2 separate regions of the Homo sapiens genome follow, and region 1 is linked to region 2. A link means that fine-mapping ties the variant in region 2 to the expression of a gene that starts in the linked region. Tissue or cell type: sigmoid colon. Region 2 holds a variant in brackets; the other region holds the start of a gene. All regions are shown on one strand. Distances are from middle to middle.

Region 1 (5,151 bases), 58 kb before region 2:
GCCTCCCCTGACCATCCTGTGTAAAATAATCCCTCCTTCCTCTCTAGACTTTCTAGCGTCTTTACCCTACTTTTTTTTTTTTTTTTTTTTTTTTTAACAAATTAAATCTTGGGCTGGGCGTGGTGGCTCACGCCTGTAATCCCAGCACTTTGGGAGGCTGAAGCGGGCAGATCACGAAGTCAGGAGAGTGAAACCATCATGGCTAACAAGGTGAAACCCCGTGTCTACTAAAAGTACAAAAAAATTAGCTGGGTGTGGTGATGGACACTCGCAGTCCCAGCTACTCGGGAGGCTGAGGCAGAAGAATGGCCTGAACCCAGGAGGCGGAGCTTGCAGTGAGCAGAGATCACGCCACTGCACTCCAGCCTGGGCGACAGAGCAAGACACTGTCTCAAAAAAAAAAAAAAAAGATTCCAGATACTCTGGAGCTGTCATAGGATCAGGTATTTAATTTATGCCTGTAATTCCCATGGGTTCCTGGGGCAGGGGGGGAAGTGGTGGGGAGTCCTGAGGTGAGAGTGAGGGAAGGTCTGACCAAATCCAAGACCAGGACTAGATTCTGGACCTGGGCTCTGGGACAAACTGTCTTAGAAAACTCATGGGTGTCTTGGGAGATAGTTGCTTTATTCGGAGAATGGGCACAACAGAGCCTGATCAGGAGCCAAGACATCCGACCCACACACTCTGGTTTCTCTGAACTAGGACAGTCTGAGGCATAAAGCTTTTTCCCAGATTTTCGCACTAACATGCCCCTAAAACAGCAGAAAGGATGACATACTTTCTTGGGAGGTGGTTTAAAGAAAACAAAGAAACTGCCAAGTGACAGATTTATCCTAAGATTTCTTGGATCTCTTGACCACACCCCTTATTCTAGTATTACCAGGTATTTAGAACAATCTCCAGTCTAGAAAGAAACTTGCTCCAAGGAACAACTCAGAGAACGGCTTACAGGATTAAAGAAAACCTTAAATGGAAAAATTCACTTTTGACCAGGGACAACAATCAGTAAGTGCTAGCTGCTAGTCACAGAGGTAATGGTAAAAGTCCTAATAGTAGTATCTGTTAGCTTTTATTTTTATTATTGCTACTACCTAATCACAGAAATGGGAAACCAAAACTAGTTCCTCACACATTCTCCCTACTACCTAGTCCCCAAAACTTGCTCAGAGTCACCTGGGAAGAAAGAAATCACAGGCCCTGGGTTCCCCTCACACATATACCCACCTATGCAACTACAAAAACTGGGTCTCAACACACAGGCGGGTACACACACACAGAGTCAAAAACACTGGCTTTCCTTGGCCGGTCGCGGTGGCTCACGCCTGTAATCCCAGCACTTTGGGAGGCCGAGGCGGGCGGATCACGAGGTCAAGAGCCCACATGGTGAAACCCCGAATCTACTAAAAATACAAAAAACTTAGCCGGGCGTGGTGGCGGGCGCCTGTAGTCCCAGCTACTAGGGAGGATGAGGCAGAAGAATGGCTTGAACCTGGAGGCGGAGGTTGCAGTGAGCCGAGATCGCGCCACTGCACTCCAGCCTGGGCGACAGAGCGAGACTCCGTCCCAAATCAATCAATCAATCAATCAATCACTGGCTTCCCACACACACACAACACTCATCCACAAAAACTGGCTACGGCTCGAAACCTTAGTCGGATAGTATTTTAGGCTTTATGGGCCACAAGATCTCTGCTGCAAGTACTGAACCCTGCCATTGTGCAAAAGCAGTCATAGAATAGACGTAAATATACACAAGTATACATATTCAAAATGTGTGGTTCCCCACAGAGACGTACACACCGCAAAAACTGGGCTCTAGAGTCAACAGTAAATAGTTCAGGCTTTGTGGGGCCACACAGTACCTGTTCCCACCTACTCAACTCTGCCCTTCCGCAGAAGTGGATGCAGAAGCTAAACAAATGTCCAGAACATACACACATATTCAAAATCAGTGCCCCCCGCCACGTACAAAACCACAAAAATCGCCTCAGAGACACACGTATAAGAAAACACAAAGGTTCGTCCTCACACATGTTCAGGGTAACACAATGTGGGTCTCACCTACACAAACGCGCGATCAAAACCCGGGACCCGCACGCCCAGATGACCGGGACGAGGCCATACTTCACATCTTCTCTCACAGACTCACAATTACGCAACGGTCACCTCAAACGACTTTATGGCGGACACTCCCGGACCTTCCGCTGTCCGCCCCTCCTCGTCCCTTCTCCCCGCCGGGGTGAGCCTCATCCACCCAGTCTCAACCCCGACGCAGTCAGTCTCACTGCCAGCCCGCCGGCTACGCAGGCGCAACACCGCATGGAACAGCCCCCAGGGCGTGCAGGGGCCGTTGGGAAATGTAGTCCGAGCGCCACGCAAAGGACTGTGGGCCTCTTCGCAAAACGTGCAGGTGAGTCCCCACTGTTGGCCAAAAGAAACATCCCTCCGCTGCTCTCCCGGGTCAGTTCATCTCCGACCCGGACAGAGCAGAACCAGCGCAGCCCAAGCCTTCTTCACCTCACGTTCTGGGTGGGACTTTCCACAGCCTCGCTGCACCCCGGTGGATTCTGGAGGTCGCAGGATGACTGCGTAGTGCGCACGCGCGGGTGGGCGGTGTCCGCCTCCGCGGGTGAGGCCGGCTCCAAACCTCGTGAATGTGGGGGCGAAGGACGCTGGCTGGCTGGAGGCAATAAGCCCTCACACGGGAACGTGTGGTTGTGGGAGCGGGGAAGGCGGCGAATTGGGGAGGTTGGGTTTGGTTAAAGAGCTCGAGGAAGGGCCTCAGTGTCCACACGTGATCTCCTGAGAGGATGAAAAGCAGGGCCAGGCGCCAGTCCCCTAGGAGACCGGTGTGCGTGCCAGCCTCGGGGGTGTGCGCAGGCGCGGGACCTCGCGCGTCCGCCTGCACCAATCGTGCGAACGCGCTTGTGCGTGTGGCGCTGAGGGGTCGGGGCCTCAGGCCGGGGCTGGTGGTACTGTCCCCGAGAGGCGGGTGAGCGCACGCCGCGTGGCCTTGTTTGGGGGCGGGGCCACGCGCCCGCATGCGTGGTGCGTGTGTGAAGGGGGGTGCAGCGCGCGGTCCCGGGGTCCCGGAGGGGAGTGCGCAGGCGCTGAGTCCCTGCTCGGCTGTCTCGGTGGTCGCCGCCGGGGTCTGAGCCCGGGAAGACCGAGGTAAGGGGGCTGGCGAGAGTGTGGGTGTGTCTGAGGGCGTGGGCGGCGCGCCCGCCACTGCGTGGACGTTCCTGCCAAGGCGCGCGTGGGTTTGCGCATCCACGATGGCGTGGGCGTCTGCGCGGGTGCTTGCGTGGGCGGTGGGCTCGCGCCTGCGTGGGTTCTCGGCCCGCCACGGCGTGGGGTTTGCGCCCTTCGCTGCTGTGGTTCTCGGGGCTTGTGCGCCCAAGTGTGAAGTTGGCGCCGCGTGTGAGGCGAGCCGTGTGTGCCTGTGTGTGAGGGAGCTATGTCGGGACCGCGGATGTGTATCGCTGCGTGACCCACGCGAAGGAAACAATGGAGCCATTGGGAAGCCGGGAGTGGGTGTGTGACGCTGACTGTGAAGATTTGTGTTTCTGGAGTGTGTGCGTGTGTCAGTGTCAGGCTGATGTGGGCGTTTATTGTAGCCTTGGGTTACTGTGTGACTTGCCTGGGCGTCTGTCTGCCACTTAGCGTCAGTGGCTTTGCGGTTATGAGTGTGTGACTGTGCCTTTCTGGTGTATATCTCACTGTAACCATGGAAATGGAGGCCCACAGGGGAAGAATTCTTAGCAGCTCTAAGATGTGATGGGCTGCCCTGGAAATCTGTGGAACTGTTTAATTGTGCATGACTTTCCTCCTTGGTAAAATAGCATATTAATAGCACCTGCCTGGGTGTTATTGGGAAGATTAAATGGGATGACGTAGCTGAAACACCCTGCACAGAGCTTGTCACATACTAATCACCGTGTTTAGGTGTTGGTTATGGTGCTGGTGGTCGTTTTTCTTTGACCCTATACAGAGGCAGAGGTAGTGGTGAATACTGGAGGACTTTGCATCTCTGAGCTTCGGACTGGGCTATCTTTGTCCACATACCAGGGCATCTGACCATCTCCAGTTGAGCAGTGGTGCGCTGCCCCCGCCAACCACCTGCGTCGTCAGTTTTCTGCATGTGTACATTTGAGTGGAGGACAGAGCCCTCCACTGACGCTAAGTATGGTTGTGTCCCCTTCCTACCAAGGTAGCTTGGAAAAATAAGAGCATGGACTGTGGCGCCCCGCTGTCTGGTGTTGACTCCTGGTTTCACCACTGGCTGGCTGTGTGACTGAGAGAGCTTACTTAAGTCCACCACTCCTCGGTTCACTTGTAAAACAGTAGTAATAACAGAACCAACCTCAGGTTTATGGTGAGCATAAGTAGAACTTGGCACAAGGAAGTGCCACATCAATGATCATCGTTTTATTATTAGCATAATAACCGCAGGCGTCCCACACCTGGAGAATAAAATCCATAGGTAGAAATGCAAAAGGATGAGCCCCAGAGTAAGGGTTGCAGGTCCAGAGGTAAAATAACTTGGACGTCTAGATCAGGGCTTAGGTTCAGAATTGTGTAGGCAGGGTCCTGGGAGGGCAGCATTAGGGTAGAGGAGGTGGGGTCAGGAACAAAGGATCTTCCTGATGGAGATGTCCCTAGGGAGCCCATGGGGTCAAGAACAGAACTTTGAAGTGTCAGGGACTAAGGGATGTTTCCATATAACACATGGGTCTGGAAATGTTTCTGTCCAGACCAGTGTTTCACAGCCTTGGCACTGTGACATTTGGGGCCAGATAGTTTTTTGTTGGGAGGTGGGAGGGGCTGCTATTCTATGTATTATAGGATGTTGTGCAGCAACCCTGGGCTCTATTTACCAGGCCAGTAGCACACCGCGCCTCCCTCTGGGTTGTGACAAGCGAAAAAAAAATGTCTCCAGACACTGTCAGATGTCCCCTGCAGGGGCAAAATCACTCTGATTGAGAGGACCGTGATGCAAGCGCATGGACAGACCGAAGGCATGATGACAGGGAGAAGAGTAAGGGAGCTGGGGAAGGCGGGGCACGGAGAGATGATAAAAGGATAGTGTTCTGAGATGAGAAGAAACGGCCTGCAGCCCGGGTAAGCTCCGAGATGCATTCATTCATTCAG
Region 2 (5,151 bases):
ATCATTGACAACCAGTAAGGTAAATATAAGAACAAAACAATGAAGGTGGTATTCTAAAAATCATAATCATCTTTTTATATCTAAGTTAATAACAGACTTCAAACACCTTTCCTCTCTTGTCATAGGTTATCCTGCATTCAAGCTAAGTTATCTTTTATAAGCCAGTTTTATGATGTTAATATGATTAAAAACTCCATTGGAATCCCAGGCCTAAAAACAACAGTAGGCAGTATTAATATCCTTATTAGGATACATGTAAAACTTTATGGTTGTTCATATTGTTCATAAAACTCTATGGGTAAACATCTGTAGTTAGAAAAAAGTCTTCCAGAAAATCATTTTCTATGTAACAAACTCCAACCATATGTAAACTTTCAATTGATCCCTGCAGCTAAGATGCCTTCATATAAGAGTAGTTTTGTATCAAACTGCTTGGTCTTACTAACCTAGCACAGAACTTAGTCTGCCTTCCCCTGTCCAGTTCCAAATCAGATCACTTCATTTTTCTGCTTAAGATTTTCCTGTTTCTTACTACATTTAGAATAAAGTGAAAATTCCTACCTTGGTTTATGAAACTCTACATGACCTGGTGTTCTCTGATCTTATCTTCTACTACTCCCTTGCTTGCTTACTCCACTTCAGTCATATGGGAATTCACTTTATTTCCACTTTAGGAGCACCAGACTTGCTGTTTCTCTGCCTGAAAAGCACTTTCCACAGATATCTGCTTGATCCCTTCTCTCATTGCACTTCTTCACTTGAGGTTCTGTTCACATATTACCTCTTCAGTATGGCCTTTGCCGAACATCCAATATGAAGTATTCCACACTCTTATGTTTCTCTTTCCTCCTGCTTTGCACTTCATAGCACTTAACTTATTTAATATCATATTACATGTTAACTTACTCTCTATTCTTATTAGAATGTAAACATTCATGTGCAGGAAGTTTTTTTCTCACCCTTGAACACCCATTGCCTAAAATAGCCTGGACAGATAGAAGGTGCTTAGTATCTTTGGAATAAATACTGAATCAATAAGACATAAAACACCACACTAATTCATCCTCTTATTAGAATGACATGCTTGCATGAATGGGGTAAATGTCTGAAACCAAATGGAATATTACCACTAAACTTAAATATTACAGTGGATAATGATATTTGGAAGGAAAAGAATCTGAAGGCAACATACTTAAATTGAGGCTGCTAATTCCGCTGTGCTGCCTCAGTGCCCTTCCAAATTCCACTTTCCTCTCTAAACAGTTGCAAATCACACCCATGAATGCCCTATAAAAAGTCAACATGAAAATTAAATTCTGAAGACTGATGGGTCAAAAAAGAAATATGAAATGACTGCCAAGGAGCAATGATCTAATTAAACCCAGAATTAAGTTGATAAAACTATAATAAGGAAGTAAAAACACTAATTCTCATTAGACTGAAAAGTTAAGGATAGATATTATAATCGTTACAGGCATGATTCTTACATTTTAGAGTGTATCAGAATTAGATAAAACTTGCTAAACTACAGATTGCTATACCCCACACACAGAGTTTTTGATTGAGTTAGTGGAGGTTGAGGGCTGAGAATCTTCGTTTCTAATAAATTCACAGGTGGTGCTGCTGGTCTCAAGACGACATTTTGAGCATCATTGCACTATAGCACCCACTGGAAGCATAATATAAAAAGGTACAACAAGCCAGCAGATAAAATAAAATGGAATTATAAAAAATATTCAAACATCCCAAAAGAAGATAGAGATGAGCAAATATTTTTTAATGAGAAATATTAAAGAGAAAACAATAGTAGACTCAACTCAAATTATATAAATAATTAAATATTAATGAACTCCTTATTCAGTTAAAAGGCAGAACTTATAGGAATCAACAAAATGAAAGACACAATTATATGCTGTTTATAGAAACCTCACATTACATATAAGAATACATTAATAATACAGATAAAGAAAGATGTAACATGCAAACAGTAAGCATAAGGCTAGATTAACTATATTCACGTCAGATAAAATAGACTTTAAAACTGAGTATTACCAAAGATAGAGACGTATAGTAATAAAAGGATCAATTCATCAGAAAGAAATAATCTTTAATGTCTGTGCACCTAATATAACGCCTCAAAATACATAAAACAAAAATTGAAAGTGTAAGAAATAGGTAATCCTATAGTCATAATAGGCAACTAACACATGCTTTGCTCAGAAACTGACAAAACTAGGAAAAAATAGTAACAAAGAGGATCTCAACAGGGTTAACTACTTTGATCTAATTTATATTTATACAACACTACACCAAACACTTGTACAACATGTATTCGAGTGCACACAATGTGTTCAGTAAATAAGATAGACTATATTCTGGGGCATAAACCAAGTCTCCATAAATCCCAAAGTACCGAAACCAAGATGAGTATGCTCTCTAACCTCAACAGAGGTTAGAGGTTATTGATTTTTAAATCAATAATACCTAGTCAACTCCAAACATCTGAGAACTAAACACATTTCTATATAAATCATGGGTCAGAGTATACAAGAGAAATTAGAAAATATCTTGGTTGATAATGACAGTACAACATATCAAAATCTGTGGGATACAGCTAAAATGGTACTTAAAGGAAAAATCTACAGTTTTCAAATGCTTATGTTAGAAAACAACTAAAAGTCTAAAAATCAATAATCTAAGATGTCACCTCAAGAAGTGAGGAAAAGACCAAAGTAAACTTAAGGAAAGTAGAAGAAAAAGTTAAGAAAGAAAATTAACAATATAGAAAAACAACAACAGAGGAAATAAAACAAAAGTAGGTTCTTTTAAAACATCAGTTATCAAGAAAAAAAGAACAGATATCAGCAACACCAGAGGAGTTATCATTACATAGCCTACAGCTGTTTTTTAAAAACATTAATAAATTGAAAAACTCAGATGAAACACAGAAATCTCTTGAAAGACACAGCCTACCAAAGCTGATTCAACAAAAATCAGATAACCTGATTAACCCTATATCCATTAAAGCTGTTATGTAAAAAATACTTCAGGCCCAG[A/T]TGTCTTCATTGGTGAATTCTATCAAATATTTAAAGAAGAAATAATACCATTTTATTCAAACTGTCAGAAAATAGAGAAAGATAAACACTTTCCAACTTGTTTTCATAAGGCCAGTATTATCTTGATACCAAAACCAGATAAAAAAATTATAAGAAAGTAAACCCGCAGGCTGGGCGTGGTGGCTCACGCCTGTAATCCCAGCACTTTGGGAGGCCGAGGCAGGTGGATCACGAGGACAAGAATCGAGACCATCCTGGCCAACATCATGAAACCCCATCTCTACTAAAAAATACAAAAATTAGCTGGGCATGGTGGCGCATGCCTGTAGTCCTAGCTACTCGGGAGGCTGAGGCAGGAGAATCGCTTGAACCCGGGAGGTGGAGGTTGCAGTGAGCTGAGATTGAGCCACTGCACTCCAGCCTGGTGACAGAGCAAGACTCCATCTCAAAAAAAAAAAAAAAAAAAGTAAACCTGCAGACCAATGTAGCACATGTACATAAGGCAAAATCTTTAATAAAACTGTGCAAATGAAATCTAGGAAAATATTAACAGCATGATCTTGACCAAGTAGAGTTTATCCCAAAAATGCAAGATTGGTTTCACATTTGAAAATCAATCAATGTAATTCACCATATTAAAAGGTTAAAGAGAAAAAAAATCACATGATCATTTCAACAGATGTAGAAATAGTATCTGATCCATTTATTATAAAAATTATCAGCAAACCAGGAATAGAAAGTAACGTTTTCAAACTGATCAAGGACATCTAAGAAAAACTGACAGCTTACACTGACTTAATAGTAAAAGACAGAATACGTTTTCCCTTAAGATTGAAACAGCACAAGTACATTTCCTCTTACCCCTTCAATTACACATTATATAGGAGGTCCTAGCCATTGCAATATATCAAGAAAAATAAGGTATAAGGATCAGAAGGAAAAAAAAACTGTATTTGTAGATAGCATGATTGTCCATCCAAAAAATCCTCATGGACCTACAAAATAACTGTGAGGGCAACCATTAAATGAATCTAGCGAGGTCATAAGATGTAAAGCTAATATAAAAATCAATTTACATTTCTGCCTACTAGTGGCAAACTATTAGAAAACTGAATTGTTAAAAAAAATTCTATTTATTATAGCACTCAAAAAACTATTACAGACTTAGGAAAAAAAATTTAACAGAGTACCACTACACTGGATACTGCAAAATATTCTTAAGATAAATTTTATTATTTTTCCTTTTTCTTTTTCAGACAGAGTCTTGCTATGTTGTCCAGGCTAGTCTCCAAGTTCTGGACTCAAGCAATCCTTCCAAATCAGCCCCCCAAGTAGCTGAGATTACCAGCGCACACCATTACACCCAACTTCAAGACATTTTTAAAGACTAATAAATGGCTTAATAAACCATACTTATATTAGAAGACTCAATGTTAAGAGGTCAGTTTTTTTCAATTGACATACAGAATCAATGTAATCCCAACAAAAATCTAAGTTTTTTGAGCAGAAATTCTCAACTTCATTCTAAAATTTATATGAAATGCAAATGATCTAAAACAGTCAAGGCAATTTTACAAATTGCTCTATCTGGTATCAAAACTTACTACAAAGCTACAGTAATCAAGGCAGTATGGAACTGGTGAGACAATAGACATATAGATCAATGGAACAGAAGACATTCCAGAACCATACCCACACATATGTGGTCAAGTAATGATCAGGAAAAGTAGCAAGGTGATAGGTGATAGAATTAGGAAGGGAAAGTCTTTCCTGACAAAGGGTCTTGGGGCAACTGTATATCCATATGGAAAAAAAAATGAACCTCAACCTTTACCTCACACAAGACACATAAATTAGCTCAAAATCATTCACAGAGCTAAATATAAATGCTAAAACCTTAAAACTCCTAGAAAAATATCTCTGTGACCTGGGAGTAGCAAGAATTTCTTAGATATAAGAAGCACCAACCAAGACAAATTAATAAATTGGATTTTACAAAAACTGCAAACTTTGCCTCCAACAGAGGTGGCAGCAGAAAAACAAAAAGGCAAGCCATAATTGGCATACATATAAGCCAATACATATAAATGATAAA

The links. PIP is the estimated chance that this variant, and not a neighbour inherited with it, causes the effect.
Region 1: ZNF667 starts here. The variant in region 2 is fine-mapped to the expression of ZNF667 in sigmoid colon (GTEx, PIP above 0.99).

Annotation. Positions count from the first base shown.
Region 1 is chr19:56,475,292-56,480,442 of GRCh38, reverse strand. It overlaps ZNF667 (zinc finger protein 667), which reads left to right and starts at 3,098. Exons shown (of 7, transcript NM_001321356.2): 1 at 3,098-3,171. ZNF667-AS1 (ZNF667 antisense RNA 1) reads right to left here and starts at 2,569. Exons shown (of 2, transcript NR_036521.1): 1 at 2,062-2,569.
Region 2 is chr19:56,417,567-56,422,717 of GRCh38, reverse strand. The region is part of intron 4 of ZNF583 (zinc finger protein 583); the gene reads right to left. Among named protein-coding and RNA genes, the nearest start is that of ZNF583, 16 kb to the right of the region's middle. The variant A/T (reference allele first, on the strand shown) is at 3,057.